Linked DNA regions of Homo sapiens: regions 1, 3 and 4 are each linked to region 2. Evidence: fine-mapped expression QTL. A gene starts in region 2. Each other region holds a variant in brackets. All regions are shown on one strand. Distances are from middle to middle.

Region 1 (8,398 bases), 60 kb before region 2:
AGCTATTCTCCTTTCTCTTTCTTTGGAAATAAAACTTCTACTCCTAAACTCACTCCTTGTGTGTGTCCATGCCCTTAGACTTCTTGTTGCAAGACGATGAACCTCAGGTATTTACCTTAGACAACAATGCATCTTCATACTGGGGGTGTGTCCAGGATCCCAAGGTACTTTCATTGGAATGTTGAATACAGGAGTGAAACTCAACTCTGTCCTTTCATTTCAAGGCTCTCAGCCTCCATTTTAGAATCAAATCATACCAAATACTGGGCTCCCTTCAGTCATTTAAAAATAATTAGCATGGCTGCCAGCTTTACAAGACATGGGGGAGAGGCTTGCTGGGGAAAACATGTAGAATCCCCCAGTACCCACACGTTGCTGGGCATATTGGCCATGTTTGAACCAGTTTTCTTTCAGAGGACCTAGCAATTGAATGGGGCTGGAAAAAGTTCTGAAGCAACTGAGGATTTCTGGCGGAAGCTACTCCCTGGTGTTGTTCAAAGGATTTGGACTGACCTCATCCTCTGACTGCCTGACAGAGTGTCAGCAACAGGATCTCCAGCTTTCATACTATAATTTCCTCCATTCCTGTCTGCAACCACCATGTCTCCCATCCTCTCTCTCTTTGTATGCAATGCCACAGCAATTTTACAGTTCAGGGAAGTAATCTTGTTAGGTAAGATCAGGAAATGCCATAGTAACTGAAGGTGTAGCTCAAGGGAATGCCGTTGTAATTTTCTAGGAATAGAGGGTCCCTCATCACAGTGAAGTCACTCTCTGCCCTTGGTCTGGAGAGCATATGGCATTTCCAGGTAACACTCTACCCTTGTCTGGAGAGCACATGGCATTTGAAGTTCACTCTCTGCCCTTGGTATGGAGAGCACATGACATGTCATGGTCACCCTGTGCCCTTAGTCTAGAGATCACATGGCATTTCAAGGTCAACAGCGCCACCTAGTGGGATGGGAATTCTCTCCATGAAGCACATTGTTGGTCCTCTGCCAAAACACTCTAGCCTCCAAATTCTCCTCCCTTTTTGTGCCCCTCTGCTAGAGACCAGGCTTCATGCTGCTTCTGTGAACAGGAAAACTCTGCCTTCAACAACAATTAGGAGTAAAATGTCCTCCAAAGACAAAGTTGTTTAGTTTCGATACTGTCCCATCAACTAGAAAACTGCCATTTGGTCCCTATGTTCTTTTAAGGCACCTATTCTGCCTCCAATTAAAATGGTACTGAAATAGTAAGGGGATTTTTTTTCTTTTTCTTTTTTAATTAAATTAATTATACTTTAAATTCTAGGGTACATGTGCACAACGTGCAGGTTTGTTACATATGTATACATGTGCCATGTTGGTGTGCTGCACCCATTAACTCGTCATTTACATTAGGTATATTTCCTAATGCTATCCCTCTCCCCTACCCCCACCCCATGACAGGCCCCAGTGTGTGATGTTCCCCTTCCTGTTCCAAGTGTTCTCACTGTTCAATTCCCACCTATGACTGAGAACATGTGGTGTTGGGTTTTTTGTTCTTGTGATTGATAGTTTGCTGAGAATGATGGTTTCCAGCTTCATCCATGTCACTACAAAGGACATGAACTCATCCTTTTTTATGGCTGCATAGTATTCCATGGTGTCTATGTGCCACATTTTCTTACTCCAGTCTATCATTGATGGACATTTGGGTTTGTTCCAAGTCTTTGCTATTGTAAATATACGTGTGCATGTGCCTTTATAGCAGCATAATTTATAATCCTTTGGGTATACGCCCAGTAGTGGAATGGCTGGGTCAAATGATATTTCTAGTTCTAGATCCTTTCTGCACAGCAAAAGAAACTACCATCAGAGTGAACAGGCAACCTACAGAATGGGAGAAAATTTTTGCAACCCTCTTGTCTGACAAAGGGCTAATATCCAGGATCTACAGAGAACTCAAACAAATTTACAAGAAAAAAAACAAACAACCCCATCAACAAGTGGGCAAAGGATACGAACAGACACTTCTCAAAAGAAGACATTTATGCAGCCAACAGACACATGAAAAAATGCTCATCATCACTGGCCATCAGAGAAATGCAAACCAAAACCACAGTGAGATACCATCTCACACCAGTTAGAATGGCAATCAGCAAGGGGATTTCAAGTTTGGAAGTTAATTGGAACCATTCTCTAAGGGTAAACGCTTTAACATGGGCCATAATAAGCAGGATATAGAGTTCAATCTAGCATGCACTATCCATTAAAGGAGCCTTGCTCAAATGCAAATATTATAGTTTTTCCCAAGATCCATCCTTCTAGGAGCCACAGAGGCCACATAAGTCTAGGAAGTCAAAGGGAAATCACAAGTGGAGGACTAGAGTCACATGGGTAAGCATGACTAATCTCAATTGCTTAGTTCCTCTGGTCCTGTATTTTTAAATGGCTGCAGGGTTGCAAGAATGCAGCCATGGGCAGCACATTAAATAAGGTGCTGGTACTCAGGAGCCAAGGAGGGAAATCAGTAGGTGGAGCATGCCACCACTGTCTTCCCCTCCACCCTAGGTCACACCAATAGGAAGGAGACTAAAGGGACATCTTTTTCATGCTTCCATTTCTAGATGAGTAACAGATCATCTTCGGCCTGTAGTCCTCTGGAGTGCATTTGAAAACACTGGGACTCTTTTTACCCTGAGATATGAAGAAAAGTGGCTTTTTTTTTCCCACAAAGGTGTGGCCTTCTTACCCACTTGAAACAGCCTAAACTGTGGAAGGAAGCTTTAATTTAAATTGTGTCCAAGAATTAGATCTTTTCTCCATATGGGAGGGAAAATGGCCCAAGGTCCATTATATACAAGATTTCTTTGCCCTATGAGAAAACCCAGACCTTTGCAAGCATTGCACAATTCACCCAGCCCTTCTAGCAATCATATCAGGAAGGCCCAAAGGGAATGATTCCCCAAGACTAGAAAAGCAACTTCCAGAGTGTATTAGTCTGTTTTTCACACTGCTGATAAAGATGATATACCCAAGACTAGGCAATTTACAAAAGAAAGAAAGAGGTTTAATTGGACTCACAGTTTCACATGGCTTGGGAGACCTCACAATCATGGTGGAAGGCAAGGAGGAGCAAGTCATATCTTACATGGATGGTGTCAGGCAAAGAGAAGAACATGTGCAGGGAAATTCCTCTTTTTAAAACTATCAGATCTCATGACACTTATTCACTATGACAAGAACAGCACAGGAACAACCTGCCCCCATGATTCAATTACCTCCCAGCAGGTCCCTCCCACAATACATGTGAATTCAAGATGAAATTTGTGTGGGGACACAGCCGAACCATATAATTCCACCACTGGTCCCTCCCAAATCTCCTGTCCTAACATTTCAAAACCAATGATGCCTTCCCAACAGTCCCCCAGAGTCTTAACTCATTTTAACATTAACTCAAAAGTACATAGTCCAAAGTCTGAAGTCTCATCTAAAACAAGGCAAGTCCCTTCTGCCTATGAGCCTGTAAAATTGAAAGCAAGTTAGTTACTTCCTAGATACAATGGGGGTACAGGCATTTCATAAATACAGCCATTCCAAATGGGAAACATTGACCTAAACAAATGGGCTTCAGGCTGCGGGGAAGTCTGAAGTCCAGTGGGGCAATCAAATCTTAAAGCTTCAAAATGATCTCCTTTGACTCCATGTCTCACATCCAGGTCACACTGATGCAAGAAGTGGGTTCACAAGATCTTGGTCAGCTCCACCCATGTGTCTTTGCAGAGTAAAGCCTCCTTTCTGGCTGCCTTAATTGGCTGAAGTTGAGTGACCATGAATTTTCCAGGTGC[A/G]TGGTGCAAGCTGTTGGTGAATCTACCACTCTAGGGTCTGAAGGACAGTGGCCCTCTTCTCACAGCTCCACTAGGCAGTGCCCCAGTAGGGATACTGTTTGGGGGCTCCAACCCTACATTTGTCTTCTGCACTGCCCTAGCAGAGGTTCTCCATGACAGCCCCATCTCTGCAGCAAACTTCTGCCTGGACATCCAAGCATTTCCATACATCTTCTGAAATTTAGGTGGAGGTTCCCAAACTCCAGTTCTTGACTTCTGTGCACTGGCAGGCTCAACATAATGTGGACAAGGCTTGAGGCTTACACCCTCTGAAGCCACAGCTTGAGTTCTTTATTGGTCCCATTCAGCCATGGCTGTAGTGGCCAGGATGCAGGGCACCAGTCCCTAAGCTGCATAAAGCATGGGGACCTCAAGCCCAGCCCACAAAACCACTTTTTCTTTGTAGGACTCTGGACTTGTGTCAAGAAGGGCTGCTGTGAAGGCCTCTGAAATGCTCTAGAGACATTTTCCCCATTGTTTTGGGGATTAACTTTTGACTTCTCATTACTTATGTAAATTTATGCTGCTGGATTGGATTTCTCCTCAGAAAATAGGATTTTCTTTTCTATTGCATTGTCAGGCTACAAATTTTCTGAACTTTTATGCTCTATTTCCCTTTTAAAACTTAATGCCTTTAACAGCACCCAAGTCACCTCTTGAATGCTTTGCTGCTTAGAAATTTCTTTTGCCAGATAACTTAAATTCTCTCTCTCAGGTTCAAAGTTTCATGAATATCTAGGGTAGAGGCAAAAAGCTGCCAGTCTCTTTGCTAAAACATAACAAGAGTCACCTTTGTTCCAGTTCCCAAGAAGTTTATCTCCATCTGAGACTACCTCAGCCTGGGCCTTATTGTTCATATCACTATCAGCATTTTTGTTAAAGCCATTCAACAAGTCTCTGGAAGGTTTCAAACTTTCCCACATTTTCCTGTCTTCTTCTGAGTCCTCCAAACTGTTCTAACCTCTGCCTGTTACCCAGTTTCAAAGTTGCTTTCACATTTTGGGGTATCTTTTCTGTAGTGCCCCACTCTACTGGTACTAATTTACTGAATTAGTCCATTTTCACACTGCTGATAAAGACATACTTGAGACTGGGAAGAAAAAGAGATTTTAATGGAATTACAGTTCCACGTGGTGGGGGAGGCCTCACAATCATGGAAGAAGGCTAGGAGGAGCAACAGGCCAAAAAGGCTTGTGCAGAGAAACTCCCATTTTTAAAACCATCAGATCTCGTGAGACTTATTCACTATCACAAGAACAGCACAGGAAACACCTGACCCTATGATTCAATTACCTTTCACCAGGTCCCTCTCATAACACCTGGGAATTCAGGATGAGATTTGGGTGGGGACACAGCCAAACCATATCATGGAGAAATCATCTATTGAGTGTTACAGCCCTTCCAATCCCCCTTACCTGGGGCAACCTCCCACTGCACCACCAGGTGCTCTACCCCCACCACCTTAAAAACTCCCCATTTCTGCACCTTCACACTTATGCCTACAGGTAATGCCCAACAGAGGTGATGCCACAAGGGTTCAAGCTCCCTTCTTATTGCAGGACCTTAGGCAAATAAAGGGAGACTTAGGCAGATTTTTTATGACACTGTTAGGTATATAGAAGCTTTCCAAAACCTAACTCAGGTGTTTGACCTCTTGTGGAGGGATGTTATGCTGCTCCTAATCCAAACCCTAACCACAGTGAAAAGCAGGAAGCTCTGCAGGCAACAGAGAAATTACGAGATGAGCAGTATGTCTTCTATAGTAGGCCAAAAAGGAAAAGAGAAAATAAATAGGGAAGGTGAAGAAATAGGGGAAAAGCCATTCCCAATAAGAAGAGGGGCAATACCTCTTGACAACCTTAATTGGAACTTCAGTGACACCACAGATGAATGAAAAAGAAAACAGTTTCTAATGTGCATATTGGAGGGCCTAGAAAGAATTAGGGCCAAAGATCTTAATTACTCCAAACTGTCTATGATAGACCAAAAGCCAGATGAGAATCCCACAGCCTTTATGGAAAGACAGACAGGCACTAATAAAACACACCTCCTTATTCCCCAATTCAGTTGAGGGACAGCTCATCCTGAAGGACAAGTTTATTACACAGGAAGATCCTGATATTAGAAGGAAACTACAGAGGCAGGTTATAGGACCAGATAGCACCTTGAAGAACCTCCTGAGGGTGGCCACCATTGTCTTTTATTATAGGGACCAGAAGGAGGTCCAGGAGAAAGAGAGGAAGTAAAAGAGAAGAACAGAGGCTCTAGTAACTGCTTTGCAAACTTGCAAAGTCCAGAATCCCTGAGGTGCATCCATTAGTTGCTATCAGTGCAGCAAGTCAGGGCACTTTAAGGAGTGCCCAGGCAGCAAGAAGAAACCACCATGACCCTGTCCAGAATGTGATGGGGATCACTGGAAATTGGATTGTCCCTGGAGATAAAGGTCACTGGGTTCAGAACCAATCTCACAGGTGATCCAACTGGGCTGATATGTCCTGGGGCTCAAACCTCTGGCTCCAGGAGCTCAAATGCCACTACAGCACAGGAGCCCCAGGTGATTCTGGAAATTGAAGGAAGAAAGGTAGACCTCCTTCTGGACACTACAGCAAGCCTCTCTCTTCTTCTTTCTAATCCAGGCCTCCCATCTTCCCATAACTGTGAGGGGCACCTCAGAAAAAACTCTAATCTGTTATTTTTCTTAACCCCTTAGTTGCAGTTGGGGGGAACCTATTAGTTACACATGCCTTTTCAATCACACCTGAAAGTCCCACTCCTTTATTAGGTAGAGACATTTTGGTTCACATGGGGGACAAACTCTTTGTCTCCCCCTGGTAGAAGCTAATATCAATCCAGAAGTGTGAGCAACAAGGAAGAGTAGGTTGAGCAGTAACCACTAGGCCAGTCCAGATCCATCTTAATGATCCCACTTATTTTCCCAACCAAAGACAATACCCCCTAAAGCCAGAGGCTAGGAAAGGGCTAGAAGCCATTATTAAAAACCTGAAGATGCAGGACCTTTTCAAACACTGTAACAGCCCCTGCAACACCCCAATATTAGGAAGGCAAAATCCCAATGGGGAATGGAGACTACTTCAGGACCTCTGCCTCATTAATGAGGTGGTAGTCCCAATTTATCCAGTAATACCTATTCCCTAATACTGTGCTGACCCAAATACCTCAGGGAACTAAATGATTTGCAGTCCTAGGTTTAAAGGATGCCTTTTCTGTATACCATCACATCCTGACTCTCAATACCTGCTTGTCTTTGAAGATCCCTCTGGCCAAATTGCCCAGTTAACATGGATAGCGCTGCTTAGGGATTTTGAGACAATCCTCTTTTGTTTGGACAGGCTCTATCAAAAGACCTCTCTGAGGTTTTCCATCCTCAGGTCAGGGTCTTGCAATATGTGGATGATATACCACTCTGTGCCCCACCTGAGGAAGCTTCCCAGGAAAGCACTGAAGTTCTTAATTTATTAACTAACAGAAGATATAAGGTTTCAAAATATAAGGCCCAGCTTTGCAAAATCTCAGTGAAGTACTTGGATGTAGTTCTGTCTGAAGGGACCAGAGCATTAGGGGAAGAAAGGATTAAGCCCATTTTTTCCTTTTCCCTCCTCAAAACCCTAAAGCAACTAAGAAGATTTTTGGGCATTACAGGATTTTGCAGGCTATGGATACCTGGGTATGGTGAGATAGCTTATCCTCTATATCACCTCATAAAGAAACTCAAGTGGCTAAAACTCCTCTCTTAATCTGGGAACCTGAAGCTCAAAAGGCCTTTAACCAGTTACAACAAGGCTTGCTTAAGGCACCAACCCTCAGTCTTTTCATAGGGCCTTCAATCTGTATGTATCAGAAAGGAAGGGAATGGCCCTGGGAGTTTTAATGCATGCCTGAGGACAGCTCAACAGCCAGAGATTTATCTGAGTGAGAAATTTAATTTGGTGGCTAAAGGATAGCCAGCATGCCTCTGAGATATTGCCATGGTGGCCCTACTGGTCCCAGAAGCCTCCAAATTAATCCTGGGAAAGGATTTAACTGTTTACACCCCACATAATGTGGCAGGATTACTCTCCTCCAGGGAACATTTAGCTAACAGATAGCCAGCTCCTTAAATATCAAGCTGTCTTGTTAGAGGGTTCCACCATCCAGGTAAAAACTTGCTCTTGCCTAAACCCAGCCACTTTTCTCCCTGAGGAAACAGGGAAACCTGAGCATGACTTAAACAGGTTGTGGTACAGACCTATGCAGCCAGGGAGGATCTCAGAGAAACTTTCCTAGAAAATCCAGACCGGACCCTCTTTATGGATGGAAACTCCTTTGTGGAGCAAGGAGTCCATAAGGTGGGATATGCAATAATCACTCTGAATTATGCAATTGAAAGTGCATCTCTTGCTTCAGGCCTAAGCACTCAACTAGTTGAACTGAAAGCCCTTATAAGAGCACTTGAATTAAGTAAGGGAAAGGTAGCTAACATTTACACTCACATCAAGTATGCTTTCTTAGTTATCCATCATGCTCATGCTGCCATTTGGAAGGAAG
Region 2 (8,348 bases):
AGTTAACAAAGATATACACTGTGGAAAGGACACCCTATTCAATAAATGGTGCTGGGAAAATTAGCTCGCCATAAACAGAAGAATGAAATTGGGCCCCTAATTCTTACTACATATCAAAATTAACTTAAGATGGATTAAAGACAAATATGAGACCTAAAACCATAAAAATCATAGAAGAAAACCTAGGAAAAATTCTGACATTGGCCTAGGCAAATAATTCATAACTAAGACCTCTAAAACAAATGCAACAATATCCTGTGACAATTGGAACTTTGCCCAGTTTTTAATGGGGTTATTTGTTTTGTCTTATTGACTTGTTTGAGTTCCTTATAAATTCTGGATATTAGCTCTTTTTTGAATGCACAGTTTGCAAATATTTTACTCTATTTTGTAGGTTGTCTGTTTACTCTGTTAATTATTTCTTTGCTGTGCAGAAGCTTTTTAGTTTAATTAAGTCCCATTTGTCTTAAAATGTTTTAGCAAAAATAAGAATCTAGATGTAAATCTTACACTTTTCACAAAAGTTAACTCCAAATTGTTTATAGAACTAAATGTGAAACACAAAACTATAAAACTCTGAGAAGATAACATAGGAGAAAATATAGAAGACCTTGGCAATGGTTTTTCAAATACAACAACAAGTGCACAATCCATGAAAGAACAAATCAATAATCCGAACTTTGTTAAAACAAAAAAAAAGTTTTACTCTGTAAAAGACACTATCAAGGGAGGGAGAAGTCCAGCTAAAAGAGGAATAATAGTTCCAAAAGATACAAGAATATATCTTTATAAGAATAAAACACTGTCATCCAAAATACCCAAAGAACTCTTAAAGCTCAGCAACAAAAAAGTGGACACCCTCAATAGAAACATGGGCAAAAGATTTGAACAGACACCCCACCCATGAAGATAAACAGATGTCAAATAAGCATGAAAACTGTTCAACATTACACATAATTAGGGGCCTGCAAACGAAGACAACAATGACACATACCTTTATAATAATGAACATCTAAGGCACTGATAAAACCAAATGTTGGCAAGGATTTGAAGCAATGGGAACTATTAGTTATTGCTGATATGAATGCAAAATGTCACAGACACTCTGGAAGAGAGTTTGGTGGCTTTTACAAAACTAAAATATGCTTACCATATGATCCAGCAGTTGTGCTCCTTGATATTTGCCAAATGAGTTGAAAACATATGTCCACACAAAACTTGCACAAGGACATTTATAGCATCTTTATTCATTATTGCCAAAATTGGAAGCAACCAAGATATCCTTCACTAGATGAACAGATAAACTGTGGTACATCAATGCAAGGGAATATTATTATATTACTATTTGGTGGTAAGAAGAAATGAGCTTTCAAGCCATGAGACGACATGGAGAAACCTTCTGCATATTAATAAGTGATGGAAACCTGCCTGAAAAGGCTACATACTGTGTGATTCCAACTATATAACAATCTCTTATAGTAAAGGCAAAACCATGGCAACACTAAAGTGAACTGTGGTTCACTTGTTACCAAGGACTTGCATGGAAGGGAGAGAATACGCAGAGCATGGGGGGTTTTTAGGACAGCAAATCTATTCTGTATGATGCTACGATGGTGGATATATGGCATTATACATCAGTCAAATTTATAGAATGTACAACACAAACAGTAAACCCTATGTGAACTTCGAACTTTGGTTGATGATTATGTCTTATTGTTGGCTCACTGACTGTAACTAATGAACCCCACTGATGGGGGTTGTTGATTGTGGGAAAGACTATTTGTAGGTGTGGTGAAGGGGTTTGTGGGAACTGTTGCTCGGAGCCTAAAATTGCTATAAAAATAAATTCTATTAATTAAAAAAAAACCCCGCTCTAATTCACAACCCTATCCAAGCTGAGGTGGGTGTCAATCTGTGACTGTAGAGGGCTTAATTAATGCTAATACACTCTTGATCATTTGGACTTAGGTGGGAATTCTATAGGATAGGGTATTTCACTGAACCACCAAGCAGGAAAACTGGGATTCTAATACAAAATCTTTTACTGGTGCATTGATAATGCTCTAACTCACTGAGTCACCAATTGCTCATTCCTGAAAAACAAAGCAAAATTAAATTAGTAGATCTCAGAGATCCCGTCTGTCTTTAAATTATCTATGTTCCTTTTATTCTATAAAAAGAAAGGTCAAGGCAGGAGCCTCAGCTCAGGAGAAGAAACAAGGAGCAGAGCAAGGGCAACTGTTTCTCAAGGAATAAAATTATTGCTCTAAAGAGAGAAAGTGAACTTATTTTATCCAAATAAACTAGCTTATACCTACGTGAGTGAGGCAGCAAATTACTACTTCCCTTTGCCCTGGATAAAGGGTTCACCAGGACCTGGACTCACTCACCTTTTAAAGGTTATAAAACCAAACACGTCTGACCCACATTTTACTCAACTGGTGCTAGAATTATTAACTAAATTAATGTTTATTTTGAAAGTCACTGATTAGATTAATCCACAAGTATTGAATTTTAGTCAATCTTGGTGGCCCGGTTTAACTGGATGTTTTGCTTAAAAGGAAGGCAGCAAGATGCAGGGGTTATGGTTTCCAGCCCCAGCTTGGTCACTTGCATTCTGTGTGTCCTTAGCTAAAGTACTGAATCTCCATGGTCTAACTTTCTCCTCTCTAAACTGGGAATAATTTTACAGTGGGCAAAGATAATTGAGAGAATAAAAAGAGATGTGATGAGTGTGAAAATTCTCTGTAAATTTGTCATAATGTCTATAAACATAATCGATAAAACATTGTATAACTGGGTCTTAATATTTTCTTAATGAAAGAGCTGGAAATAACTGTACTGGTCAATTTAGAATAAAGGTAATCTTTTCAGAGCATGCCTTTGTATACACACTTTGTTATTAGTGATCTAGTAATGTTCATAAATCCAGTTGTATTTAGATCTTCATGACCATTGACTATCAGTTCCCATTTCAGGTCTGCACATTGCAGTGGTTCTGTGCCCTGGGTCCATTCAGTGATTTCCCTGTGTTCCATCTTCTGTTGAATCCACAACTGTTGTTCTGTGTATAATTTCTCTTCCTTGCTGTGTATGATTACATTCTATTATTTGTAACAATAACAGACCAAAAACAATAGAAGCAGCCATGTCTGGAGGTGACTGGAAGGTGGAGAAGCCATAGATTTTCAAGCCCTGTGCCATAAATTATGTGAGATTGGCCCTTTCCTTAATAGTGCTGAACAACTTTCACTTGTGAGGTGATGCAGAGGGGAGAACTCTAATTTTTATTTCTTCTTTTGAGCGTCTCCGGTCCTCTTATCCTTATAAACAAATAACGGACTTCTATTTAATGTGAAGCCTGTTGCTTTCTGAACAGAGTCAAGGTGGCGTATCTTCAGAGTAACTAATGTCTGGGGTTTGTTTTGTTTTTCTAAAATTGTTCTTGAGCCAGCTGTGGTGTAAGTGGTAATGAACCCCAATGGGTATCAGAAGATCTCTGCTCAAATCCCGGTTTTACCGGCAATGAGCTGTGTGGCACTGACAGGTGTCCTGTTCTCCCAGAGTTTCTTTCCCAATTTGAAAAATAAAAAATGATAATCTTTATACTCCAGTCTCTTTTAATGATGAATATACATTTATATATATACTTTTATATATTTAATATAATATTTAATAGTATAAATATGTATTTATGTTATTATTATGTAATAATGTATGTAACACTCCCTGCTAATTCAGTTTGTCTCTTTGACATGTAAAGTAAATAATCACCTATTATTATAATAATGTAATAATAACACAAATATTATTATGTAATAACATATATATTTATGTATATTGTTTATATACATTTAAATATATATAAATATACATTTATTAGCTAATAATTTGATATATGTATGGTAATTCAACATGTATGAGTTATATTCACTATTTCATGTTTAGGCAGCTGTATTTTAAGTGAACTATACTAAATATTTGAAAGGCTTTTGTTATCAAGGGCTAAGTCTCCTATTTTTTGATATAGCATTACAATGTACATTTTTTATACACAAAATATAGAATACACTGATTTCCCTCAAGGTCATAAATTCCCAACTGGTCATTAATCTGAGAATATTGAATTTTGAGTATATTCTAACATAGAATCATTTACTTCAGTGTTTCTCCATCATCACAGCACATTGGAACAACCAGGGACTTTTAATTAAAAATACCTGGGCTCCAATCCAATACAATTAAACCAGAATCTCCTAGATTGGCACTGGAAAGAAGGAGTAGGACAAAAGAACATTTTATTTCTATCCATGGGCCAAAGTCCACTCAGAAAAAAAGTATAAATTGGATCTAGGTGATTGTTTACTTTACATGTCAAAGAGACACACACTAAATTAGCAGGGAGTGTTATAAAAACTTTGGAGTGCAAGCTCACAGCTGTCTTAATAAGAAGAGAAGGCTTCAATGGAACCTTTTGTGGTCCTGGTGCTGTGTCTCTCTTTTATGCTTCTCTTTTCACTCTGGAGACAGAGCTGTAGGAGAAGGAAGCTCCCTCCTGGCCCCACTCCTCTTCCTATTATTGGAAATATGCTACAGATAGATGTTAAGGACATCTGCAAATCTTTCACCAATGTAAGTCTGCCTTATGTTCCTCCAGCCAATTGCAAAGGGTAAGTTATTTGACTGCTATTTTTAGACAAAATATATTCCTGGAAGCACACTATTATAATAGATCATTGTAAAGCAAAATACTCCCTCTGAACTTCTTTGATGTTTCTTTTGTCTTCCTATTTTTTTTTTTTTTGAGACGGAGTCTCGCTCTATTGCCCAGGCTGGAGTGCAGTGGCACTATCTCCACTCACTGCAAGCTCTGCCTCCCAGGTTCACACCATTCTCCTGCCTCAGCCTCCCCCGAGTAACTGGGACTACAGGTGCCCTCCACCATGCCCGGCTAATTTTTTGTATGTTTTAGTAGAGACAGGGTTTCACCGTGTTAGCCAGAATGGTCTCAGTCTCCTGACCTCATGATCTGCCTGCCTTGGCCTCCCAAAGTGCTGGGATTACATGTGTGAGCCACCGTACCTGGCCTCTTTTGTCTTTCTAAGTCTGTCATTGTCAGAAATAGCGGAGTGAGTTGATGCATTTTGTGAATACAGAAACATTGGGGTCATTGTATTATATAATCATTTAATACAGTGGCAAAAGTTTAAAGTGCTGTTTCTCCTCTTTGTTTCACAGTGTTTTGCTATGATTTTTGACTGAAGGTGAAGGGAAGTGTGTGTGATTAGAAATTTCATCCAATAAGTTCTCTACTATAGTAGTCATGTGTTTTATTCAGAATGGTCATGAAAATTGAACTTCTCTGAAGATTCATTTGATGGCTGATGTGAAATAAATATCTGTGGGTTCAGGGCAAACATAAGTGCATGAAAGAAAGAAGTAATCAGTCAGGGCCCAATAGGTAGTTAACAGAATTCTTTTGGATTCTGAAGAAAGCCACTGTCTGTGGCCAAGGTTGCTGGAGAATGGAAGAAATTGTTCTTCCAGGAGATGCTGAATGTCCTGATTCTAACTTTGTGGTGCTTCATCGTTCCATATTGGTAATACCAGCAGTTACAAACTGGACTGGGCATTAGAATCACCTGGGGTGACACTGTAAATACAGATTTCTAGGGTTCATCACAGGACTGCTGTATCAGAATCCTCATGTTAAGAGCTTTACAAGTGACCCTGAAGTCTTTAGCTGGGTAGTGGCCTCAAGGTGGACATGGGGGATTGATTAATTGCTCAAGCATCAGTTTAAATTAGCAGAGATTCCAGTTTGGAGCTTCTACATATTACCTGTGGGACTCTGAGAATGAATCTGCAATTCTCTGGCCTCAGTTTCTTCATTTTTAAAACAGGTCAAATGAATGTGCTGAATGTGTTGAAGTGAGGATGAACTGTGTGATTTGTGTACCAATTGCCTGGGTCATTGCGTGGCACATCACAGGCCATCTATAAGTGGCAGCTATAACAATCACCATCACATTTATGTACAAAATTCAGAAATATCGAATCTATGTGTGGCAAATATGAACATTAAAAAATACAATGAAAATGTCAGTCTGAATCATACATAGTATTTGGAGCAAATAGCGACTTATTTTGCTGCTATTTGCATTTCCTTTCCCAGTTCTCAAAAGTCTATGGTCCTGTGTTCACCGTGTATTTTGGCATGAATCCCATAGTGGTGTTTCATGGATATGAGGCAGTGAAGGAAGCCCTGATTGATAATGGAGAGGAGTTTTCTGGAAGAGGCAATTCCCCAATATCTCAAAGAATTACTAAAGGACTTGGTAGGTGCACATATTTCTGTGTCAGCTTTGGTAACTGGGGTGAGGGGGATGGAAAACAGAGCCCTAAAAAGCTTCTCAGCAGAGCTTAGCCTATCTGCATGGCTGCCAAGTGTTGCAGCACTTTCTTCCTTGGCTGTGAATTCTCCCAGTTTCTGCCCCTTTTTTTATTAGGAATCATTTCCAGCAATGGAAAGAGATGGAAGGAGATCCGGCGTTTCTCCCTCACAACCTTGCGGAATTTTGGGATGGGGAAGAGGAGCATTGAGGACCGTGTTCAAGAGGAAGCTCACTGCCTTGTGGAGGAGTTGAGAAAAACCAAGGGTGGGTGACTCTACTCTGCGTCATTGACCTTAACAGTTACCTGTCTTCACTAGTGACGTCCTTGGAAACATTTCAGGGGTGGCCAGGTCTTCATTGCGCATCCTGGTTGTCAGCCCTCAGGTGGTGGAGGGAGATTTGAAGCACAGAGACAAGGGAGGTTTTGTGTATCTGTGCTTTGCCTGTATAAATGTGTTGGTTCATAGGGTGTAGGAATAAAAGGTCATTTAATCCTATTTTCTGCTCAATTTTGTTTCCTTGTTTTCAAATCAGAAATTATAAATAAGGGTCTTGAGTTCATTTTTGAAGAGTTAAAGAAGGTTTCCCCCATAGCATAAATCTGCATTACCTCCACCAGAACATTTCACCAGAGAACACTTGGAAAGTGGACATGGTGAAAGTGACCTCATCACACTTCATGAAATATGAACCAAGTTATATGTGCTTTCATTTAATTCGAGTTTTTTCATATGGTCATACTCACATGTCTGGAAATTCCTTCCAGGTCCATGCCTACAGCTCTGGCCAGCAATGACACTATGTATGGTTTTACTTGCTTAGGTATATCTCAGTACAGTTTTCATCAGTTCTTATTTCTCGGGAAACACAGTACTATTTGAAAACTGTCAGGATTAATTATTTCTTGTTAACCACTACTTACTGTAGCAATTAATATATTTTAAGTAAATATAATCTATAGTATAACTCAGCAAATACACAAACACTAATTTGTAAATAATTTGTTTAACTAGATTTTAACTATTATGAAAAACTCTTTATCCTGTCTTCTTTAAATGTAATTTGGCTATGTTTTCAGTTTTGTCATCTTTTTTCCCCTGTATTGGTTCTTAGCTTTGAAATTTGTGCTAATCATTTTTCTCCCACTGCCAATTTACTCACCTATGAAGTGCTTGTTATAATCAATCTGATTATCAGCTGGGATATAAAATTACCTTTTTAAATTCACTCTCCCAAATGCAGTAAAAAAAAAAAAACCTGGATATCAGATTGTACCTGAGAAACACACACACACACACACACACACACACACACACACTCTCTCTCTCTCTCTCTCTCTCTCTCTCTCTCTCACCAAGGCTTCCCAAATTACCTTTCACCCCCTTGGCTAAAACAACAGTTTTTCTGAAACTTTAGAGCCCTGTAATGTTTAAAGGAGTCTGGCATAGAAGCAGCTAACTCAGCAGGTTTCTTGTTGTTCAATGTTCCAACTTTATTCACAACCCTTTCATTTCGTGTCACTCTTATTTAGGACCTATAGATGTGAATTTGGGCACCCTTTCCATTTATGTTCACTAGTCACTTGGTTACAGCAATTTCATTTTAGAGATTCCTTCACCGAATAAAAGCCTTTTTAATAATTTCTTTACCTGTAAAATTACAGATTTGGCCTAACTTATGGTCAAATTTAAAACTTTATTAAAACATACTTATCTTGATGACTATACTGAATAATATCCCAGAATCCACAAGAGTAGTTTTGCCCAAATGAATTAAATTTGGAAGATGATTGGAAATGATAAACATTATTTCCAAAGGAAGGAAATTCATTTTTTACAAATTGAAAAAATAAATAAAAAGATTCCATTTATCAATTTACTTTTTGGTTAGCTTTACTGGGATTTAGATTTGAAATAAAAAGTTAGCATTTTACTTATTTAGATAAACAAATCT
Region 3 (8,398 bases), 99 kb before region 2:
TGTTAAGCTAAAGAAAAACAACCAGACAAGTGCCCAACAGTACTTAAAAAGTTATAATCCTGCAAAATTCAAAAAGGGAAATCCAAATAAGCAGCTTCTAAACTATTTTTAAACATTACAATAAAAATACCTTCCATATTGCATATATATGTGCTTATATGAATAATAGAATTAACAAAACATAGTTATTTTATAACATGTAATACATTCTTATTTTTAATTCTCTTTCATTTGTTTTAAATGCTGTGTGCAATCTACAAAAAGTTCAATAGTAATAATTAAATTATTCATTAAATTGAGCATTACTTGTAATTTAAAATGATAATCTTAAACACAATCTTATTTTTGAGATAAAAATATTTTAGCAATATACTATTAAGAGAAAAACACTGGCTATGAAAGAATTTACATAGTTTCATCCTATCTGTTTGAAAATAAAGTTTGGAAGAATACATTTGAAAAATAGTTAACATTTCCTTTTTTGTAGTACTTTGCGGCATTGTCTAAATATTGACAGTCAATACACATTATGAAGTTACATGGTTAACGTTGATTGAGTACTCACTGTGTGTGCCAGGCCCTGGGCTCAGTGCTCTGTGTGCATTTTTATTTTATTTAATCCTCTCCACAATGTGAGATAGTATAGCCAACTCATGTTACAGAGGTGAAACAGGCTCAGAGATTGAAAGTTAAATGCCTGAGGTTGCAGTCAATAAGAGGAAGAGCTGTAACTGAAACCTATGTGTGTCTGACGAGCAGTTCATGTTCTGATGGTAGGCTAGTCTGCTTAACAGAGTGTGGAATAGATGGTGCATGCATACTAGGATGGGCTAGATACCACTGTGGGTCACAAACAGTCTTAAACAATGGAGGTTGTTTTCCTGCTCATGCTGCACGTCCATCATGGCTCTCCTGGGCCCTGTGCACCACATCTTCTTATCCTGCTGCCAGGGTAAAGGAGCAGCCTCCATGTGGAACCTGTCAGGTGCTCTCGGAGATAGAGAAGAGGGTGTCCAGTCTCAATGGCTCCCAACTCTTCTGCCTCAAGGTGACATGCTTCGCTTCCACTCACTTTTGGGTCAAAGCAAATCACATGGCTACACCCAACTTAAACGGCCCACGTGGAGAAGCTGAAATACTCAGTGGACACCATTAAGGCCACCATATGGTGTTAGCCTGTGTGGGAGACTGTGGAGGGGCAGAGGAGGAGAGTAGGGGATTGGTAGGAAATGACAGCAGGACTAAGTCACCACAGATTTGCTTTATCTTCAGCCAGGTGGAGTTTGTCCCAGAGCTGCCAAAAACCGTCACTGGCAAGATTAAACGGGAACTTCAAGTTTGGTCAGATGTAGTCAGCAGTGAACTCAGAAATGACTGAATGACATTGAGTCAGTAAATCCCTGACTGCCTCAGTTACCCCACATGATAGTGGTGAGGATGGGAGCATTGAAAGAGTTGATTTGGAAGGATATCAGGAGTGTGAAAATTCCAACATTTTACTTCAAGTTAAATCCAGGCACTATCCTTCCTGCAAGTCCCCTGTTTCTTTCAGATTGCACAGGTGAGAGTGCTCAGATTAGGGCTGTAGGTTATAAAATATTGGCTCCCACATGAACAGTTCCCCTGTGTCGTGTTTGTATTCTGAGCATTTTTCTGTGCTAAACACTTCCCCAAAACATCCTGGGTCCTGATTCTTCCTCCTTGTTCTGTCAGTGCTGGGTGACGCAAGTGCCCATTTTTTGGCCAGGACACAGAAGTCTCAGAGGGATGCTCTGTGAGGCCCCAGGTGCCAGCCTCTGCCCTGCTGGAATGTGAGGCAAGGGACAGGGCATCTTCTGTGAGGGGGCAGTGGTCAGCCAGCTTGGTGACTATGCTTGCTTATCAGACCATCCCACACCTGCCACCTCTGATGAATCTACTGCCTCTGTGCCTGCCTGTACTGCTGATACAGGACTCACTCAGCTGTCCCCAGGCGTGCCCAGACTTTCATTCCTATCCAGAACCTAGGAGTCCTGCCCACTGGCCCTCCCTCATCAGCAGTAAATGATGATTTACTGCTGTTATCATCATGACTGCCTTTAGCATCTGAGAACTTTCCAGGGTGCCAGCTCTGGAAGGACAGATGCCCTTGGGAGGTGCTGACACTCAGGTACACAGGTGCTCAACAGATTTCTTCCTCCTGTCCTCAGACAGTCTTTGCATGTAGCCATTGGCACTCCCATTGTATGGAAGGAAACCAGCCCAGGGTCACACAGCTGGTCAGCAGCACAGCTGGTCTCAAATCCAAGGTGCTTGGCCTTGCCTCCATGAGGGACCTGCCTGTGAGGTTGACACTGGCTTTGGGGAGCCTTTCCTGGGCTGCATAAATAACCTACCCTGTTTGAGGCCCCAAACTCTGCTCATATTGCCCTCCTTTCCTTATGTCTACTTGGGCTATAATCAAGGTGACCCCAGCAACCCTTCACGGACATTATGGTAATCTGTGCCGTTCACTTTTGTGCAGATCTGACTTCAACCCCCTCTTGGTCTCTCCTTTTACAAGCAAGACAACTGAAACTGGGGGTCTTTATGCAGGTGACAGTATACAAATATAATTTCATTGTTTTGTTATCTGTGTTTTGTTTTTGTCATGCTTGTTTCTTAGGATTTCTTTCCATTTATGGTAAAGGCATTGGCTTTCTATTTGTAGCCTCAATGGAATATTTCCTGTTTATAATAACTTTATGTCATAATAAATGGTAAAGGGATTTAAAGAAGTGGTTTTAAGCTGCTAGAAGCCTGGGTGAGTTTGGGCACACTCTGTGCAATCAGGCAGAAGAAGGCCTTTGGGAGGTTTAGCTGAAGACAGGACCAGGAAAGGTGATGGCCAGTGGGGGTCTGTCCTGGTCACCGGGCCCCTAGGTCCTGCCCAATTGCTTGGTACTCCCCACCCATTACTCCTGGTGCTGCCTGGCCCTCTGGGTATTGTGGCCAAATCTCCCAGGAGAGAAGCTGATGAACTTCGTCACTTGAAATGCACAGATTCCTTGGTCATACCTGGGAAGTCAATCATGAGAGTCAACTTGGTTTTCCTCCCCTCATTAGGGTTCAAAATTTAAAGCCCATGGTCACAGGCAGTAAGATGACATAGATAAGTGACATCATCACCCCATTTCAGATGTTAAAATGTCTAGGTGGGTTAGAAATGATTTGGGACCACACAACCTTGTGCCACAAAGTGGAATTCCCAGGCCAGAGGGAGATGTTTTATTGCCATATTATGATTCTATCATTGAGTGCAAAGGCAGTCTTGTTTCATTTTGGGTTCTTCCTTATGTTTATATCTTACTTATAAGGGCACATTGAATTTCCAAGCATATAAGAATTTTTGGTTAGCTTTTTATCGTTGACTTCTAGCACAATTATATGATCAGAAACGTGATTTGATTCCTCTGAAATATATTGAGATTTGCTTGATGAACAAAATAAGTCAGGTTAATTTTTGTAAATGTACCATATGTGCTTAAAATGAATATATCGCCAACATTTATTCCCAAGATACAAGGGTGATGGATAGATGACTACATGAATGTGATGGAGATGGTTTACTATTTGGACCTTCTACATCCTACTGATGTTTTGTTGCTTAGTATATGAATTGCTGAGAGGGGGCTGTGGAGCCTCCCACTCTGCTTGTGTATGAGGTTCTTCCTGCCATCCTGCCATCATTTGTTTTTCATGTTTTGCAGCCAAGACTGACCATGAGGAACACTTGGAGCTCAGGAAGGAAAGATCAGCCCAGAAGCAGGGACAGGGAGCTGGTTGGGGAGGATGAGAAGTCAGAAGGTCTGCGAAGTTTCCAGAGAGGACCTGTCTTTGGGATGGCGCATCAGGGGTTCAGGTGGGGGAGGGGGTGTTGGAAGAATGTGGACATCACATGGAAT[G/A]CCCACTGTGAGGCACTATGGTACCAGGACCGAGGATTGGTGGAGAGGAAGTATAAAGCCCCAGGGTTGCTAAGGTAGCGCCCAGACAGGAGAAGGTTTGGTAGAAACCAGAGCCCTGGTCTCCCTCCAACTGCTCCTGAGCCTCCTGCTCCCCTGCCCCACTCCTCCTGCTGTTTTGCTGATAGACTTTTTCACTGACCTATAGCTGAACCTTCCACCAGCACTTGAAGACTTAGTTTTAACTGGATCCTTTCCCAGGGTTCCTTCTTTTTCTTCCTCCTCCTTCTTCTCCAGCCCCCCACCGCCCTGCTCCTCCAGGCCCCCCACAGTCCCCCTTGCCTTCCCTCCCCTCCCAATCCCTTTCCCTCCCCTCCCCCTCCCCAACTGCAGTCCCACCCCCAGTCCCCATCCCCTTTCCTCCCTTAGCCCTAAACCACCCTCACCTCTGTCCTGGCCTCCTCAGGGGGCCCTGAGAAAACCAGGACATGCGGGTCCAGTGGCTGCTGTTTTGGCTCCTCCTGCTTGGGTTTCCCAGCCATCAATCCACCCATGTGAGTATACGCTGGACCCACAGGGTTTCTTCCTTTTCATCATTGTGCTGTGTCATGCCACGTGAAATTACACAGTTCAAGCCTGTAATCCCAGCACTTTGGAGGGCTGAGGTAGGCAGATCATTTGAGTCCAGGAGTTCAAGACCAGCCTGGACATCTTTGCAAAAAATTTCATAAAAAAATTAGTTGGGCCTAGTGGCGCCTGCCTGTAGCCTCAGATACTGGAGAGACTGAGTTGAGAGAATCACTTGGGCCCAGGAGTTAGAGCCTGCAGTGAGCCCAGATCACCCCACCGCACTTCAGCCTGGGTGACAGAGTGACACCTTGTCTCAAACAAAACAAATCAAAACAAAGTGAAATGTCATTTGAGTTTTGTGCCACATGGTTTGATGAATTTCTAGGAACTTTTTTTTTTGCTGGTGATATCAATTTTATTTTTATTATTACACTGTAAGTTCTGGGTTACCTGCGCAGAATGTGCAGTTTTGTTACATAGGTATACACCTGCCATGGTGGTTTGCTGCACCCATCAACCTGTCACCTACATTAGGTATTTTTCCTAACGTTATCCCTCCCCTAGCTCCCCACCCCCCAACAGGCCCTGGGGTGTGATGTTCCCCTCCTTGTGTCAATGTGTTCTCATTGTTCAACCCCCACTTACGAGTGAGAACATGCAGTGTTTGGTTTTCTGATCTTGTGATAGTTTGCTGAGAATGATGGTTTCCAGCTTCATCCATGTCCCTGCAAAGGACATGAACTCATCCTTTTTTATGACTGCATAGTATTCCATGGTCTATATGTGCCACATTTTCTTCAGTCTATCATTGATGGGCATTTGGGTTGGTTCCAAGTCTTTGCTATTGTGAATAGTGCTGCAATAAACATACGTGTGCATGTGTCTTTATCATAGAATGATTTATAATCCTTTGGGTATATGCCCAGTAATGGGGTTGCTGGGTCAAATGGTATTTCTGGTTCTAGATCCTTGAGGAATCGCTGCACTGTCTTCCACAATGGTTGAACTAATTTACATTCCCACCAACAGTGTAAAAGTGTTCCTATTTCTCCACATCCTCTCCAGCACCTGTTGTTTCCTGATTATTTAATGATCACCATTCTAACTGGTTTGAGATGGTATCTCATTGTGGTTTTGAATTGCATTTCTCTGATGGCCAGTGATGATGAGCATTTTTTCATGTGTCTTTTGGCTGCATAAATGTCTTCTTTTGAGAAATGTCTGTTCATATCCTTTGCCAACTTTTTGATGGGGTTGTTTTTTTCTTGTAAATTTGTTTAGGTTCTTTGTAGATTCTGAATATTAGCCCTTTGTCAGATGAGTAGATTGCAAAATTTTTCTCCCATTCTGTAGGTTGCCCGTTCACTCTGGTGATATTTGCTTTTGCATAGCAAAAGCTCTTTAGTTTAATTAGATTCCATTTGTCAATTTTGGCTTTTGTTGCCATTGCTTTTGGTGTTTTAGACATGAAGTCTTTTCCCATGCCTATGTCCTGAATGGTATTGCCCAGGTTTTCTTCTAGGATTTTTATGGTCCTAGGTCTTACGTTTAAGTCTTTGATCCATCTTGAGTTGATTTTTGTAAAAGGTGTAAGGAAGGGGTCCAGTTTCAGTTTTGTGCATATGGCTAGCCAGTTTTCCCAACACCATTTATTAAATAGGGCATCCCTTCCCCATTGCTTGTGTGTGTCAGGTTTGTCAAAGATCAGATGGTTGTAGCTGTGTGGTGTTATTTCTGAGGCCTCTGTTCTGTTCCATTGGTGTATATATCTGTTTTGGTACCATGCTGTTTTGGTTACTGTAGCCTTGTAGTATAGTTTGAAGTCAGGTAGAATGATGCCTCCAGCTTTGTTCTTCTTGCCCATGATTGTGTTGGATATGCGGGCCGTTTTTTGGTTCCATATGAAGTTTAAAGTAGTTTTTTCCAGTTCTGTGAAGAAAGGCAGTGGTAGCTTGATGGGGATGGCATTGAATCTATAAATTACATTGGACAGTATGGCCATTTTCACGATATTGATTCTATCCATGAACATGGAATGTTTTTCCGTTTGTTTGTGTCCTCTCTTATTTCCTTGAGCAGTGGTTTGTAGATCTTCTTGAAGAGGTCCTTCACATCCCTTGTAAGTTGTATTCCTAAGTATTTTGTTCTCTTAGTAGCAATTGTGAATGGGAGTTGACTCATGATTTGGCTCTCTGTTTGGTGTATAGGAATGCTTGTGATTTTTGCACATTGATTTTGTTTCCTGAGACTTTGCTGAAGCTGTTTATCAGCTTAAGGAGGTTTTGGGCTGTAACGATGGGATTTTCTAAATACACAGTCATGTCATCTGCAAACAGGGACAATTTGACTTCCTCTCTTCTTATTTCAATATCCTGTATTGCTTTCTCTTGGCCGATTGCCCTGGAGAGAACTTCCAATACTATGTTGAATAGGAGTGATGAGAGAGGACATCCTTGTCTTGTGCTGATTTTCAAAGGGAATGCTTCCAGTTTTTACCCATTCTGTATGATATTGGCTGTGGGTTTGTCATAAATAACTCATATTATTTTGAGATATGTTCCATCAATACCCAGCTTATTGAGAGTTTTTAGCATGAAGTGGTGTTGAATTTTATTGAAGGCCTTTTCTGCATCTGTTGAGATAACCATGTGGTTTTTGTCATTGGTTCTGTTTTTTTTTTTTTTTTGAGGTGTGGAGTGGGAAATCAGGAGTCTCACAGCCTTCAGAGCTGAGAGCCTCGAACAGAGATTTACCCACTTATTTATTTATTTTATTTATTTGTGTATTTATTTTTTTTATTTTTTATTATTATACCATAAGTTCTAGGGTACATGTGCACAACGTGCTGGTTTGTTACATATGTATACATGTGCCATGTTGGTGTGCTGCACCCATTAACTCGTCATTTACATTAGGTATATCTTCTAATGCTATCCCTCCCCCCACCCCATGACAGGCTCTGGTGTGTGATGTACCCCATCCTGTGTCCAAGCGTTCTCATTGTTCAATTCCCACCTATGAGTGAGAACACACGGTGTTTGGTTTTCTGTCCTTGAGATAGTTTGCTCAGAATGCTGGTTTCCAGCTTCATCCATGTCCCTATAAAGGACACGAACTCATCATTTTTTATGGCTGCATAGTATTCCATGTTGTATATGTGCCACATTTTCTTAATCCATTCTATCACTGATGGGCTTGGGTTGGTTCCAATTCTTTGCTATTGTGAATAGTACTGCAATAAACATACATGTGCATGTGTCTTTATAGCAGCATGATTTATAATACTTTGGGTATATACCCAGTAATGGGATGGCTGGGTCAAATGGTATTTCTAGTTCTAGATCCTTGAGGAATCACCACACTGACTTCCACAATGGTTGAACTAGTTTACAGTCCCACCAACAGTGTAAAAGTGTTCCTATTTCTCCACATCCTCTCCAGCACCTGTTGTTTCCTGACTTTTTAATGATTGCCATTCTAACTGGTGTGAGATGGTATCTCACTGTGGTTTTGATTTGCATTTCTCTGATGGCCAGTGATGATGAGCATTTTTTCATGTGTCTTTTGGCTGCATAAACGTCTTCTTTTGAGAAGTGTCTGTTCATATGCCCACTTTTTGATGGGGTTGTTTTTTTCTTGTAAATTTGTTTAGGTTCTTTGTAGGTTCTGAATATTAGCCCTTTGTCAGATGAGTAGATTGCAAAATTTTTCTCCTATTCTTTAGGTTGCCTGTTCACTCTGATGGTAGTTTCTTTTGCTGTGCAGAAACTCTTTAATTTAATTAGATCCCATTTGTCAATTTTGGCTTTTGTTGCCATTGCTTTTGGTGTCTTAGACATGAAGTCCTTGTCCATGCCTATGTCCTGAATGGTATTGCCTAGGTTTTCTTCTAGGACTTTTATGGTTTT
Region 4 (8,398 bases), 51 kb before region 2:
AACTGTCTCATGAAACCCACCTTCCTTGGGTCACTATTCTTCCCATGGCTTTACTGTGAAAATTAACTCAACTAGCAGAAGCCCAACCGCAAGAAACAGGACCACCTTTATTTAACTCAGAAGATTTGGTGTTGGTAAAAGCTCTCCCTTCCCTCTCTACTTCCCTATGCCTAATCTAGGAAGGGCCCTGAATTGCTCTTCTTTCAATCCCCTCCACAGTAGAAGTTACAGATATCAGCTCCTGGATACATCATACTAAAGTCAAAGCCTGGAAAACCAAGAGAGCAACCCCTGACAACCTAGAGGAATGTCCTGGAGATTAATGTGAAGAACTAGGAGATTTCAAGCTGAAAATCATAAAAGATAAGTAAATGAGTAAGGGCTACTCATCCTACTTAGTCCCATGTTTACCTTACCAGATACATTTAGTCATTTCTACTTTTCCTCTTGAGAGTCACTACCAGGTTTTAAAACATATTTTGATGCATACTTGCAGGGAGATTTTTAATTATTCATGAAATTGCATTTGTAACTTCATAGACACCCAAAGGGAAATGTTATGTCTTGGTGAGTAAAATTTTAAATGTAAATTATCTACTACACCACACTTTCAGGAATTGCTGTACTTGCTCTACTATTTGCAGTGTGACTATATACTGTAGCACCTTCTAACTAGAAAATCAGACAGTTTCTATTGTTGTAGTATTTTGCTTAATTATTATCCTTATAGCAGAGATAATATTTACCAACAAAAAGGAAGCACAAAACTTTTACTATCACTGAGTCTGCTAGAATTTTTTATTGAGTTTGGCCACCATAGCTATGCAAAGAAGGTTATAAAGGAAAGAGATTTTATATAAGAAAGGATATTTTAGGGGAGGTAAATTCTTGTCCTAAAGAGAATAACTGATTGTTTAAAAAGCGGCATGTTTAGGACAAGTGAGAAAGTTTAAGCATTTTCTAGATGGTATGTGGAAGTCTTGAAAGAATTAATAATTGCAGGAGAGATTTAGCCAAGGTTAACACTAAAGTTACTCTAGCCACAGAATAATGTATTTCTCCCAATCATATCACAAATTATAAAAGATGACCTAGACCTAAAATTATTCCTTAATGGCAAGTCAAGCAGGGAATATAAGTTTTTCTCAAAAAAAAATTGTTGCTTTCATATTAAACTCTCAATTGGGAGAGAAGCCCACACTTTTAGAGCAGTGAGAGGGAGCATGGCTGCAATCATGAGGAAATACAGAGAAGCCATGTGGCCAAGCAAGAATCTGCCTACTGACGATCACACTTCAGTTCCATCAAGGGGTCACAGTCCAAAACTTCAACACCAAAAATACTTTGCTAAAATACCCCCTGTGAATCCAAGGACAAATTTTCAGCTGCAAATAAGACTCTGCACAAAGCATTGGCCCTGTTAAAACATTCAGAAAAGAAGTCTACTGACTGTGCTCAATTTACACTGCAGTTAAAGGAATACCAGCCCACACAGATGAGAAAGAACCAGAGTTTCCAAAAACTCTGGAAATTCAAAAAGCCAGAGTATCTTTTTTTTCTCCAAACAACCACACTAATTCTCAGCAAGGGTTCTTAACCAGGCTGAAATGGCTGAATTGACACATATACAATTTATAATATGGATAGGAATAAACATCATTGAGATTCAGGATACAGTCAACACCCAATCCAAAGAATATAAGGATTACAATAAAATAATACAGAAACTGATGGACAAAATATCCACTATAAAAAAAAGAACCAACATGATCTGATAGAGCTGAGATATACACACAAAAATTTCATAATGCAACCACAAGTATTAACAGGAAGCATAAGGGAGCTTCTGTGGTCCTGGGATTATTTTTTTCTTGGCCTGTTTGTTGGCTAAACAGATATATTTGCTTTGCGATAATTCATTGAGCCATATATTTAGGACATATGCAACAATCTCTATGTATTTTATTCTTCAATGGAAATGGTTATTTAAAAATAAACAACTTGACAGGGGGTGGAGCCAAGATGTCCAAATAGAAACAATGGCAGTCAGAGGCTCCCAACCAGAAGAATAAAAACAGCATGAGAATCTTGCATCAGCAACCAAGGTATCCAGGTTCTATCATCAGAATTGACTAAGCAGTTGGCATCACCCATGGAGAGCCAGGAAAAGCAGGGTGGTGGGTTGCCCCACCTGAGAGCTACATGGGGCAAGGAGAACCCCAACTCCCAACGAAGGGAAGTGGTGAGTGAGCAAGCTACCCAGCCTGTGAAACAGTGCTTTTTCCATTGGTCTGTATAACCCACAGTTCAGAAGACCCCACTTGTGATCCCACACTACCAGGGCCTTGGGTCTCAACCATAGAACTACACAGATTCTCAACAGCAACTCAGCTGGAATCTGCCTAAGATTACCAAGTTCCCAGAAGGAGGGGCAGCCATCATCACTGCAGCTCCCTGTTGTCTAAGCCATTTGAACTCCCTGGGGGAGGGGTGGCAGCCATCAATGCAGCTACTGCCTGCCTAAGAAAACTGAACTCCCTGGGGGAGACATGGCAGCCACCACTGTGGCTGCTAGCTGCCTAAGACACTGAACTCCTTGCGGGGGATTGCAGCAACCATCACTATAGCTCAGGCCATGTTTTTTTCCTGCTGGAGCTGAGGAGACTGGCTTGGTTCCAAAAAGTATTTCCTCACAATGAAGCACACCAGCTGTGCAAACCTTATCCAGACTGCCTTTTTAGGCTGGACCCTGACCCATCCCTCCTCAGTGGGCAGGGCTTCCCTGTAGGAACTCCAGCAACTACAGCCAGGGGCTTACGGACATAGCTCTGATATCCCTGGGCCTGAGTCTCTAAAGGGAGTGGTGGCTATGGTCTCCACAGACCAGTATATTTATTCTTTCCCCCTCCTAGCTCTGAAGAATCTGCATGAGATGAGAATGAACCAGCCCAGATGAATAGGTTTTCCCACAGCACAGCACACCCCCTCCACAAAGGGACAATCAAAGTGCTTCATTAAGCAGGTCCTGGTTCCCATTCACCCCAACTGGCTGAGACACCACAACAGGGGTCACCAGACATCCTATACTGGAGTGTGTCTACTGACATCAGGTTGATGCCCCTTGATGTCAGACATACCAGAGGAAGGAATAGGCACCCATCTTTGCTGTTCTCCAGCCTCCTTGTGTCACATCACCATGTGCTGGAGAGACCCAGATGAATATGGCAGGAAATGGACCCCCAGCAAACTGCTGCAGGCTTATAGAAAAGGGACCTAACTATCGAAAGAAAAACAAACAGAAAGCAACAACAACAGCATCAACAAAAAAGTCCCCACAAAAAC[C/A]TCATCCAAAGATCAGCAGCCTCAAAGATCAAAACTGGACAAACTCATGAACATGAGAAAGAATCAATGAAAAAATGCTGAAAACTCAAAAAGCCAGAGTGCCTCTTCTCCAAATGATTGAAACACCTCCCCAGCAAAGGCACAGATCTGGACAGGGGTTGAGATGGACAAATTGACAGAAGTAGGCTTTAGAAGGTGGGTGGTAACAAACTTTACTGAGGTAAAGGAGCATGTTCTAAGCCGATGCAAAGAAGCTAAGAAACATAATAAAAGGTTATAGGAGCTGTTAACTAGAATAACCAGTTTAGAGAGAAAGATAAATGACCTGATGGAGCTGAAAAATAAAGCGCAAGAACTTCATAATGCAAAAACAAGTATCAATAGCTGAATTGATCAAATGGAAGAAAAAATATCAGAGCTTGAAGACTATCTTGCTGAATTAAGGCAGACAGACAAGATTAGAGAAAAAAGAATGAAAAGGAATGAACAAAACCTCCAAGAACTATGAGACTATGTAAAAAGACTGAACCTACAACTGATTGGAGTACCTAAAAGAGACGGGGCGAATGGAACCAAGTTAAAAAACACACTTCAGGATATCATCCAGGAGAACCTCCCCAACCTATCAAGAGAGGTAAACATTCAAATTCAGGAAATACAGGGGACCACAGTAAGATACTCCATGAGAAGATCAGCCCCAAGACACATAATTATCAGACTTTCCAAGATTGAAATGAAGGAAAAAATGTTAAGTGCAGCCAGAGAGAAAGGCCAGGTCACCTACAAAGGAAAGCCCATCAGACTAATAGTGGGCATCTCAGCAGAAACCCTACAAGCCAGAAGAGAGTGGCAGCTAAAATGCAACATTCTTAAAGAAAAGAATTTTCAACCAAGAATTTCATATCCAGTCAAACTAAGCTTTATAAGCAAAGGAGAAATAAAATCCTCTTCAGACAGCAAATGCTGAGGGAATTTATCACCACCAGGCTTACCTTGCAAGAGCTCCTGAAGGAAGCACTAAACATGGAAAGAAAAAATTGGTACCAGCCACTACAAAAACACACTGAAATACAAAGACCAATTACACTATAAAAAAACTGCATTAACTAGTGTGCAAAATAACCAGCTAGAATCATGATAGGATCAAATTCACACATAACAATATTAACTTTAAATGTAAATGGGCTAAATGCTCCAATTAAAAGACACAGACTGGCAAATTGGATAGGGTCAAGACTCATTGGTGTGCTGTATTCAAGAGACCCATCTCACATGCAAAAACACACACAGGCTCAAAATAAAATGATGGAGAAAAATTTACAAAGCAAATGGAAAGCAGAAAAAAGAGCAAGGGTTGCAATCCTAGTTTCTGACAAAACAGACTTTAAACCAATGAAGAAAAAAAGACAAAGGGCATTACATAATTGTAATAGATTAATTCAACAAGAAAACATAATTATCCTAAATATATATGCACCTGATACAGGAGCAACCAGATTCACAAAACAAGTTCTTAGAGACCCACAAAGAGGCTTAGATTCCCATACAATAAAAGTGGGAGACTTTAATACCCTGCTGTCAATATTAGACAGATTGAGACAGAAAATTAATGATATTTAGGACTTGAACTGAGCTCTGGAAGCTCTGGATCAAGTGGGCCTGATAGGTGTCTACAGAACTCTCCACCCCAAGACAACAGAATATACATTGTTCTCAGTGTCACATGGCACTTACTCTAAAATTGATCATATAATTGGAAGTAAAACACTCCTCAGCAAATGCAAAAGAACTGAAATTCTAACAGTTTCTCAGACCACAGTGCAATCGAATTAGTACTCAAGACCATACAACTACATGGAAATTGAACAACATAATCCTCAGACTCAGCCCAAAAGCTCCTTAAACTGATAAGCAACTTCAGCAAAGTCTCATTATACAAAATCAACGTGCAAAAATCACAAGCATTCCCATACACCAACAGTAGACAAGCAGAGCAACAAATCATGAATGAACTGTCATTCACAATTACTACAGAGAGAATAAAATACCTAGGAATAGAGCTAAAAGGGTATGTGAAGTGCCTCTTCAAGGAGAACTACAAACCACTGCTCAAGGAAATAAGATAGGAAACATAGAAACAGAAAAACACTTCATTTTCATGGATCGGAAGAATTAATGTCATGAAAATGGCCATACTGCTCAAAATGATTTATAGATTTAATGCTATTCCCATCAAACTATTATTGACATTCTTCACAAAATTAGAAAAATCGAATTTAAAATTCATATGGAACCAAAAAAGAGCCTGTATAACCAAGACAATCCTAAACAAAAAGAACAAAGCTGAAGGCATCACACTACCTGACTTCAAACTATATTACAAGGCTATATTAACCAAAACAGCATGGCACTGGTACCAAAACAGACATATAGACCAATGGAACAGAATAGAGATCTCAGAAATAAGACCACACATCTACAACCATCTGATCTTCAACAAACCTGACAAAAGCAAGCAAAGGGTAAAGTATTCCATATTTAATAAATGGTGCTGAGAGAACTGGCTAGCTATATGCAGAAAATTGAAATTGGATTCCATTTTTAGACCCTGTACAAAAATTAACTCAAGATGGATTAAAGACTTAAATGTAAAACCCAAAACTATAAAAACCCTAGAAAAAAATTTAGGTAACACCATTCAGGACATAGGCATGGAGAAACATTTTATAATGCAATGACCGAAAGCAATTGCAACAAAAGCAAAAATTGACAAATAGAATCTAATGAAAGTAAAGAGCTTCTGCACAGCAAAAGGCAACATACAGTATGGGAGAAAATTTTTGCAATATACCCATCTGACAAAGGTCTAATATCCAGAATTTACAAGGAACTTAAACAAATTTGTAAGAAAAAAAACCCATGCAAAAGTGGGCAAAGGACATAAACAGACATTTCCTAAAAGAAGACATTTATGCAACCAACAAACATATGAAAAAAAGCTCAACATCAGTGATCATTAGAGAAATACAAATCAAAACCACAATGAGATACCACCTCATGCCACTCATATCAAGTCAAGAAACAAAGATGCTGGTGAGGCTGTGGAGAAATAGGAATGCTTTTACACTGTTGATGGGAAGGTAAATTAGTTCAACTATTGTGGAAGACAGTGTGGCAATTCCTCAAGGATCTAGAACCACAAGTACCATTTGACCCAGCAATCCCATTACTGGGCACATACCCAAAGGAATATAAATCATTCTATTATAAAGACACATGCACACATATGTTTACTGCAGCACTATTCACAATAGCAAATATATGGAATCAACCCAAATGCCCATCAAAGATAGGGTGGATAAATAAAATGTGGTACATATATATCATGGAATACTATGCAGCCATAAAAAGCAAAGAGATCATGTCCTTTGCAGGGACATGCATGAAGCTGGAAGCCATTATCCTCAGCACACTAACACAGGAACAGAAAAACAAACACACATGTTCTCACTCATAAGTGGGAGCAGAACAATGTGAACATATGGATGCAGAGAAGTGAAAAACACACACTGAAGCCTGTCAGGGGCGGTGGGGAGAGGGAGAGTATCAGAATAAAACTAATGTATGTGGGGCTTAATACATAGGTTATGGGTTCATATGTGCAGTAAACCACTATGGCACATGTTTACCCAGATGTAACACACCTGGACGTTCTGCACATGTATCCTGGAACTTAAAATAAAATTTAAACCAAAAAAAAACCTCTTGTCAAGCAAGGTTTATGATTCTTTTTGTGGAGCACTTCATGCTGATGACATCTTGTCCATTCATTTAGGCAATGATGGAAAATCTTATTGATGTGAAAAGTCACTGAACAGGGAATTGGAAACCTGGATTTGAAAAAAATGTCTTCTTCTCATTCATAGGTAACGCATCACCTCACTGAGCCATGAGTTCCTTACTCTTAACGATAAAGTAGGGAATTAGAAGAGTGGGTTGCTGAGGTTCCTTCTATCTTTAATTATCTGTAATTCTCTCATTTTATAAAATGATACAGGTGGGAGTCTTATGATAGGAAGGAAGAGGAGAGTAGAGACCTGCATCTCTTAGGGAATAAAGCAGATGATCTAAAGACAGCCAGTGTTCATTTTAACCATAATAAAGGAGTGTGTTTCTTTCAGAGTTTAGAGCAATGTGAATCAGGCATCAAATTGCGGCTTATCTTTGTTCTAGTATAAAAAGTTCACTAAGACCTGGGTTCATGCAAGTTCAAAAGGTTACAAAATCAAACTTTCTTGACCCCCTTTTTAATCAACTGGTGCTGCAATGATTAACTCAATGTTTATTTTGAAAGTCACTGATTAGAGGAAATAATGAAATGGTGTATCACAGTACACATTCATGAATGTTGAACTGAATAATTTGCTTAGAGAGAAGTTTTTGAGGTGCAAAGGTTATGGGTACTAGCCTCTGCTCTACAACTTGCAGACACCATGTTCTTGGCGCAGATGATAAGTCCCTGAGTCTTGATATCCTCATCTTTAAAATGGGGATGATTTTACCATAGGTGAAGATAATTGAGAGAATCAAAAGTGATATAATGGGAGTGAACATTCTCTGTGAATTATCAGAGTCCCTGAAAACCTGAGGGTTAAACATTGTGTAAGTGGAGTCTTGACAAAAACTCAATTTTTCCTTATAAAACAGCTTAGAATAATTATGCTGACCAATTTAAAATAAATATGATAAAAAATTAAAATAAATATGTTAATATCTCTACAGTACATACCTTTGCACAAGCATTGCATTAGTTATCTAGCAATGTATATCATCCTAATGATACATAGGTCCTTATGCTCACTGAATTCCATCTCCCATTCAGGTTTGTATATTGTGGTCCTTATGTGCTATAAGTTTGTTTAATAAAGTCTCCTCTAAGAATAGACCACATGTTATGTACCAAAACAAGTCTTAAAATGTTCAAAAAATTGAAAAAATAAGCATCTTCTCTGACCACAACGGAATAAAACTAGAAATTAATAACGAGGAATTTAGA

Direction of the effects. Alleles are on the strand shown, and positions count from the first base shown. SD is a standard deviation of normalised expression in the study named. Not every link is listed here.
In carriers of allele G in region 3, the expression in testis of the gene that starts at base 4,370 in region 2 tends to be higher than with A alone (moderate effect, 0.59 SD a copy in GTEx).

What was found.
Region 1: its variant is fine-mapped to the expression of CYP2C8 in whole blood (TOPMed, PIP above 0.99).
Region 3: its variant is fine-mapped to the expression of CYP2C8 in testis (GTEx, PIP above 0.99).
Region 4: its variant is fine-mapped to the expression of CYP2C8 in testis (GTEx, PIP above 0.99).

What each region holds. Positions count from the first base shown.
Region 1 is chr10:95,125,664-95,134,061 of GRCh38, reverse strand. LOC107984257 (a long non-coding RNA gene) reads left to right here. Exons shown (of 10, transcript XR_007062253.1): 7 at 1-8,398. Among named protein-coding and RNA genes, the nearest start is that of CYP2C8, 60 kb to the right of the region's middle. The variant A/G (reference allele first, on the strand shown) is at 3,815.
Region 2 is chr10:95,065,519-95,073,866 of GRCh38, reverse strand. CYP2C8 (cytochrome P450 family 2 subfamily C member 8) reads left to right here and starts at 4,370. Exons shown (of 9, transcript NM_000770.3): 1 at 4,370-4,632; 2 at 6,176-6,338; 3 at 6,510-6,659. The coding sequence starts at 4,465. RefSeq lists a cis regulatory region at 2,535-2,555 and a promoter at 1,498-4,465.
Region 3 is chr10:95,164,457-95,172,854 of GRCh38, reverse strand. It overlaps LOC107984257 (a long non-coding RNA gene), which reads left to right. Exons shown (of 10, transcript XR_007062253.1): 4 at 1-2,574; 5 at 3,729-3,825; 6 at 4,387-4,474. Among named protein-coding and RNA genes, the nearest start is that of ACSM6, 26 kb to the left of the region's middle. The variant G/A (reference allele first, on the strand shown) is at 3,924.
Region 4 is chr10:95,116,388-95,124,785 of GRCh38, reverse strand. LOC107984257 (a long non-coding RNA gene) reads left to right here. Exons shown (of 10, transcript XR_007062253.1): 7 at 1-567; 8 at 7,178-7,268. Among named protein-coding and RNA genes, the nearest start is that of CYP2C8, 51 kb to the right of the region's middle. The variant C/A (reference allele first, on the strand shown) is at 3,343.